2 linked regions of the Homo sapiens genome follow. The protein of the gene in region 2 purifies or fractionates together with the protein of the main gene of each other region. This does not show direct contact. Each region holds a gene or a part of one and is shown on either strand. Other genes may lie near its edges.

Region 1 (4,541 bases), on a different chromosome or scaffold from region 2:
GACTGCTGTGTCAGATTATATTTGGAAATAACCCTTAAAATTTGGGCAAAAATCCCAATTCATCACGAATAACTATTCATCTATGAAAGCAGAAGAAACTAAAAAATCAGTTTGTTATCTGGGTTTTATCCAGATTAAAGCTAGGATAGGTGAAGTAAAGGGTACAATCCAACTGCCTGCTTCTACAAAACACACAATTTAGATTCAAAGACACAAGTAGGTTGAAAGTAAAATGATAGAAAAAGGTATATACTATGCAAATGGTAACCAAAAAAGAGCTAGAATGGCTATATCAGAGGAAACAGATTTAAGATAAAAATTGTTACTATAGACAAAAGGCATTTTATGATAAAAAGGGTTCAGGAAGACACAACAATTATATATAACAGAGCCACAAAATACATAAAATAAAAACTGAGAATTAAAGGTAGAAATTGGCAATTAACAATAATAGAGACAACTACAGCTCCACCTTCAATAATAGATAAAACAGCTAAGGAAGAAGACTTGACTACAAACTAGATCTATCAGATATTTATAGACCACTTAATAAGAACTACACTATATTCTTCTTCAGTATACATAGAACATTCTTCAGAAATACCATGTTAGGCCACAAAACGAACCTCAATAAGTTGAAAAGTATTGAAAGTATATTCTCTGATTATAATGGAATGAATTTAGAAATCGAAAGGAGAAAATGTGGGAAATTCATAAACTTGTGGAAATTAACACAATCCTAAATAACGAATGAATTAAATTAGAAACCAAATGGGAAATTAAAAAACATTTTGAGATGAAAGAAAGCAAAAATACAACATACTAAAACTTATGGGATGCTACTATAGCATAAACGCAGAAGGAATATTATAGCTATAAACATCTATGCTAACAAAGATAGATAATAATTTAATCTTAAACTAAAACTAAACAAAGAACTAAACTAAACCTAACCTAAAAAAGGAAGAACAAACTAGAAGCAAGCAAGAGGGAAATAAACATTAGAGAGACTTAAAACAAAACAAAACAAAAGACTAGAAAAACAATAGGGAGAATCAACAAAACCCAAAGTTATTTTTGTCATTAACAACAACCACCACAAAATGAACAAAATTAAAACCTTTAGCTAAACTGAAGGGAAAAAACAAAAATATCTTAGGACTCAAATGACTGAAATCAGGAATAAATGCAGGAACATTATTACTTTATCAAAAGAGGAAATAAAATGATTATAAGGAAATATGTACAATTGCACGCCAACAAATTAGACAGCTTAGATAAAATAGACAAATTCCAAGTCAAAAACCACCAAAACTGACTCTAAAAGAAATAGAAAAGTTGGCCGGGTGCAGTGGCTCACGCCTGTAATCCCAGCACTTTAGGAGGCCGAGGCGGGTGGATCACGAAGTCATGAGATCGAGACCATCCCTGGCTAACATGTTGAAACCCCGTCTCTACTAAAAAAATACAAAACAAAATTAGCCGGGCATGGTGGCGGGTGCCTGTGGTCCCAGCTACTCGGGAGGCTGAGGCAGGAGAATGGTGTGAACCCAGGAGGTGGAGCTTGCAATGAGCGGAGATCACGCCACTGCAATCCAGCCTGGGCAACAGAGCGAGACTCTGTCTCAAAAAAAAAAAAAAAAAAAAAAAAGAAATACAAAAGTTGAATAGACAAGTAACAAGAGACTGAATCAATAATCACAAAACTTCCCCCCAAAAAAAGCCCAGGACCAGACTACTGGTGAATTCTATCAACTATTCAAAAAATTCACACCAATTCTTTTTTTTTTTTTTTTTTGAGACAGAGTCTCGCTCTGTGGCCCAGGCGGGAGTGCAGTGGCGCAATCTCGGCTCACTGCAAGCTCCGCCTCCCGGGTTCACGCCATTCTCCTGCCTCAGTCTCCCGAGTAGCTGGGACTACAGGCGCCCACCATCACGCCTGGCTAATTTTTTTTGTATTTTTAGTAGAGACGGGGTTTCACCGTGTTAGCCCACACCAATTCTTAATAAATACTTCCAGACAACAGGAGAGAATAATTCCCAACTCACCCTAAGAGGCCAGTATTACCCAGACACCAAATTCAGACAAAAACATCACAAAAAAACTACAGACCAATATGACTTATGAACAGATGCAAAAATCCTCAACAAAATACAAGCAGGCTAAATCCAGCAACATATAAAAAAGATCATATGCTGTAACCAGTAAAATTTATCTCAGAAATGCAAGGTTGGTTCAACATACAAAATCAATCAATGTAATAAAGCATACTAAAGGACAAAAATCACATGATCATCTTAATAAAGAAAGAAAAAAAATTTGACAAAATCCAACACCTTTTCGTGATGAACAAACTAGTAACAGAAGAGAATTTCTTCAATCTGATAAAGGGCATCCACAAAAAACCCATAGATAATATCATACTTAGTGATGAAAGACTGAATGCTTTCCCTTAAGATCAAGAACCAGACAAGGATGTTGTTGGTTCTTGCTAGTCTAATAATATACTGGAGGCTCCAGATAGGGCAGTTAAATAAGACAAAGAAATAAAAGGTATCCATATTGGAAAAGAAGTAAAACTGTCTCCATGTGCAGATGACATGACCTTGTATATGGAAAATCCTAATGAACACATGCACAAACTACTTAATGAATAAATAACAGTTCAAGAAGGTTTTATGATAAAAGATCAATATACACAATTAAATTGTATTTTTATATAGTTAGCAATGAACAGTCTGAAAATGAAATTAAGAGAAAAATCCATTTATAACAGCATCAAAAAGAATAAAAATACTTCGAAATAATTTTAACAAAAGTATTACACAACTTCTACACTGAAAACTACAGGACACTATTGAAAGAAATTATAGAAAAACCTTATTATTAATATGTGACTTCTGAGCATTTGAAATGGGGCTAGTGTGACTAAGGAATTTTTTTTTTTTTTTTTTTTTTTTTTTTGAGACAGAGTCTCACTCTGTTGCCCAGGCTGGAGTGCAGTGGCACAATCTCGGCTCACAGCAACCTCCACCTCCCAGGTCCAAGCAATTCTCCTGCCTCAGCCTCCCAAGTAGCTGAGATTACAGGTATGTGCCACCACGCCAGCTAATTTTTGTATTTTTAGTAGAGATGGGGTTTCACCACGTTGGCCAGGCTGGTCTTGAACTCCTGACCTCAGGTGATCCACCTGCCTTGGCCTCCCAAAGTGCTGGAATTACAGGCATGAGCCCAGCCAAGAACTAATTTTTTTAAAGTTTTACTTAAACTCACCCTTTCTATAGCTTCTTTTTCCTGAGGTGTTACTTGAATGTAGTTCATATGACCACTTCCAGCTTCTGCAATTCCTCCACTGCCACCTCCACCTCCTCCTCCTTGACCACCAGCTTCTTGAACTGGTTCATTTAACATCTGAATAAAATGCTCCTGGTGTTGGCTAATTTGCTGTGGTGATATGAAGGACAGAGAAAAATAATACACTGATATTAAGTATCTGCAGGAACAGAGAAATTCTAAATATTACTAAGAGAAAAGGCTACACTTTTGCAAACGTAATTTAGTGATTCTGGATTATTCAGTCTTTGGAAGGATGTGATTTCTTATACAATAGTAAAGAAATTCAGTACTTTTGGGCAAAGTAAACAGTGAAGAAATTCAAATTCTTAAGTGCTCTGAGCCTCCTGTGCTTAAAAAAACAAAACAAACAAAAAACAAACAAAAAAAACTACTGTGGGACTATAAGAATAGAACTTATTCTTAATACTTGCATGTATTTTTTACCTTCCACACTAGTGGGCATTAAAATGCTGTATAAAATTCAAATACTTGGTGATCTGATCACTAAAGAAGCCCCACAGCTATTTTTTCTAAGAGTAAGTTGTTCCTGTTGCTTAAAAGTTCCTAAGAAAAAGGAACTGAGTAATAAGCTTGTGAAAAGTGATTTAAAGTTAGGCAGTTTCTCTGTTAAACAGCTTCCCAAATTCTTTAACATATTAATGTGTAGTGGGAATCTCCAAAAAGGAAATATAAAATGTTTCCCAAACTTACTACTATTTGGTCAACTTAATTTAACCCAACCTCCATATCCCAACTGTTTTTTTAGTACACCTATCTAGATTACAATATCTAAGTGTAGCTTGGAAGAAAACATTCACATTCTCAAATACAGAGTTGTATTTGAGGAGGGGAAGGACCGTTCATGGACTTTTTCAAATTGTGACACACTCTAAATCACTTGTGAAACTGACACTGATTAGTCACCTGAAGTAATTGAGGATTCTCTCGACCTATCTGCTGTAGTAACGCTGGAAGCAAGGAAGGATTCTGCTGAATAATTTGTCTCATCTGTTGAAACTGAGGCTGATTCCGTAAAAATTCAAGGGGATGTCCTAAAATACACATAAACATTTCTAAACAAAAGCAGTAAATACATACACAAACAGTGGTTAAATAATACATTTAGACAGCAAACACTATCAAAGAAAAAATGATTTGAGTTCTCAGATGTAATAAAATGAAGTAAATAATGATGAAATCTTCC
Region 2 (3,251 bases):
GGTGAAACCCTGTCTCTATTAAAAATACAAAAAAAATTAGCCAGGCATCGTGGCGGATGCCTGTAGTCCCAGCTACTCGGGAGGCTGAGGCAGGAGAATGGTGTGAACCCAGGAGGGGGAGCTTGCAGTGAGCCAAGATCGAGCCACTGCACTCTAGCCTGGGTGACACAGCGAGAATCTGTCTCAAAAACAAACAAACAAAAAAGAAAATGTACTGTAAAAGTCTGTGTAATTCAACGTGAAATAACCATCAATTTTTCACTATTAGTCACTAAATAAAATTTCATATTATCATTCCCATTCTTCAATAATTTACTCTCCTTCTATTAAAATTTTCCCCCCAATCCTGACCAAACCGTCTTTGAAAGGAATACACATGTGGAGGGAACCATACTTAGCCCATTTGAAGAGAAGCCACAAGGTTCACTGCTGCATGGATTTTCTCCGTAAGCACCACCATATGCTGCCTCATAACCTGGATCATATTTTTCTTCCTTAACAGCCATCTTCTTTGCATCCTCTGTGAGGAAGGTAAAAAGGATTTAAATCTGATTTTGTACAACAATTTTAAAAGTAGCTTTATTCAGAAATCATGAACAATTCTTTTTCTTGAATATTCATATACACTGAGATACATCTCTATTAATCTTTTAAACTTATAGCATGTACTAAATAAACACATAAGAACTGTAAAAACCGCTTACATTCAACTTTACGTAGGGTACAATATTTCTTACATCCCTCTGCTCTGGCACTCTGCAGGTGAATTATCTGCAGAAGTGCCAGAGTAGAGGGAAGACCTTGGTAAAAGGAGATTTTAACAGTGACTAATATTCATTATCAGAGCACTCTGGCTGCGAATATAATTGTTTTCTTTTTTCCTGCTTTTAAATCCATAAGATACTTTCTGTAATGTGTGTGTGTGTGTGTGTGTGTGTGTGTGTGTGTGTGTGTGTATGTGTCTATATATAGACACACACATATGTATACGCACACAAGTGTATACACACATATATGTATATAGACATACATACTTATGTGTATATATGTATATATACACATGTATATATACACGTGTGCATATATGTGCACACATATGTATATGTGTATATGTATATATGTATATGTGTATATATATGTAAGTATATATGTGTATATATACACACACAAAATGAATAAAAGGAATGAGGACAGTAACATACCTTGGGCAAGCTGTAGGTCAAATGTATATTGCACCTCTTGAACGTCCATATTTCGTTCAATGCCTTTCAACTGATCTCTTAAGTCCTTCAGTTTTATGTAGTAATGAACTTTGTCTTGGGCTCGAGGAAACTGAGCACATCTTGCACTGGATGATGGCATAACATAGCAGAGCTAGAATCACAACATTTTATAATTTCAGAAATCTTATAATTCTATTGAATTCACTCATTGAGATTAGAATATTTGTCTTTATTTGGGTTAATAACTTGATACTTAACTACATATAAATATATGTAAAAATCAATAAAAGTAGTTGCTTTTAAGGTTGAATTTGTAATACTGACTTATTACCAAGTCAGGAAGTGAAAAATAATGAGCCTCCGCCTAATGAGCTGCCTCCTGGGTTCAAGCGATTCTTCTGCCTCAGCCTCCTACGTAGCTGGGATTACAGCGCATGCCACCATGCCTGGCTAATTTTTGTATTTTTTAGTGGAGATGGGGTTTCACCATGTTGGCCAGGCTGGTCTCGAACTCCTAACCTCAGGTGATCCGCCTGCCTCGGCCTCCCAAAGTGCTGGGATTATAGGCATGAGCCACCACGCCCGGCCTCCAAATGGCATGTAACAGAGAATGACACAGTACTCTACAGGAATTTCTCTACAATTCACTACAGGTAGTGAATTTGTACCATTTTAACCAAGCAGACAAAGGTGGGCCTTTATTTAAGCAAAAACCAATGCTATAATAAAACTCATCAATTGCATATTTATAAGAAATTATGAACAAAAACAATTTTAAAGGAGAAATTTAAATATATTTAGGTGGCAGAAACATTTTTAGGTTTCCACAAAAACCTGGCAGCAAATTAGCTTCTCCATCAGTTAAGATGTTGTATATACAACATGTAAATCTGTGCACTGTGTTGTTCTTTAAAAGTTGTAAATAAAACCTAAAACTAAGAAGCAAAATTGGAACCAAATGCCTGCAGAAGCTCTGTAGAGAGGACAATTTGAAAAACACTGTTATTTCATGATGACTTTGTGTATAAGACAACAGTATTGAATGCCAGTTAGGTTGGCTGGAGGCTTGTCTGGGTTGTATTATTTATATGGCTCTAAAATGAAGTTGAGCTAAGATATATAAATGGGGCAACTGGTTTTCCTAATCAGGATCATGTCTGTGTTTCCATGTTTGTTTCACAACAGTACGAGGGCTAAACCATTTGAATTTGACAACTACATGCCATTAAATGTATTCTGAATGTAGTATATGAGCCAGTTCCTCTCAATATTTTCACTGAATAACAACATCAAGACATTTAGCTGACAAATGTTTTTCTTTCTAATAAACCCTAATAGTATTTGAATTAATTTACAACTATTAGTTAAAGCTGATGTATAGGTATTATTCAACAAAATACAGTGTAATTGTTTTGCATGGTATAAATCACAATGGATAGGACAAATAAGGAAATTATCTAGAAAAAAATTCACATTTAGCTGATTTACAAATTCAATTTTAGGGACTTACAGTTTCTGTGTCTGGAATCTTATGGGGCTGAAGCCCAAATTCCAAGTTCTTAACCTTTACTCCAAAAACTTCTTTACTAAAAATTTCATAAATACCTAAAATGAAATACAAACATATTTACATTGCCCATAATGTTAGCAAAGAAAAAAAAAATTTAAAAGTAAATCTTACATTTTCCATTAAACACTGCTATTCGTGGCTGATATTTCTGTAATTTCTGTACTAGAATACGTCCTCCTTCACGAAATTCTTTACTAAAATTGAATTAAAAAGTAGTCAAAAATATAAATATGACAATATTTATAATATGCTAAATTCAGACAGCTTTCAATGAAAGAGCATATTGTACATTTGTTGAGCTCAGCTTGAACTAGATACATATGATGTTCCTAGAATATTTGGGGCACCAGCATACTCAAGGTTCCAACCCATAAAAGCAAATGCTGTGTACTTACCTGGAGAGATCTTTGCTGCCGGGCGTGGTCCTTTCCACCATGTTGGTAAATCCAATACCATAC

Evidence for each region.
Region 1: the proteins of TDG (region 2) and RAD23B purify together in Homo sapiens (affinity purification with western blotting; one study listed by BioGRID). This does not show direct contact.

What each region holds. Positions count from the first base shown.
Region 1 is NC_000009.12:107,323,738-107,328,278, reverse strand, and holds part of RAD23B (UV excision repair protein RAD23 homolog B), read right to left. Parts: intron 4,390-4,541; coding exon 4,262-4,389; intron 3,446-4,261; coding exon 3,275-3,445; intron 1-3,274. UniProt on the Homo sapiens protein: Multiubiquitin chain receptor involved in modulation of proteasomal degradation. Binds to polyubiquitin chains.
Region 2 is NC_000012.12:103,982,872-103,986,122, reverse strand, and holds part of TDG (G/T mismatch-specific thymine DNA glycosylase), read right to left. Parts: coding exon 3,189-3,251; intron 2,988-3,188; coding exon 2,905-2,987; intron 2,829-2,904; coding exon 2,734-2,828; intron 1,375-2,733; coding exon 1,203-1,374; intron 521-1,202; coding exon 395-520; intron 1-394. UniProt on the Homo sapiens protein: DNA glycosylase that plays a key role in active DNA demethylation: specifically recognizes and binds 5-formylcytosine (5fC) and 5-carboxylcytosine (5caC) in the context of CpG sites and mediates their excision through base-excision repair (BER) to install an unmethylated cytosine.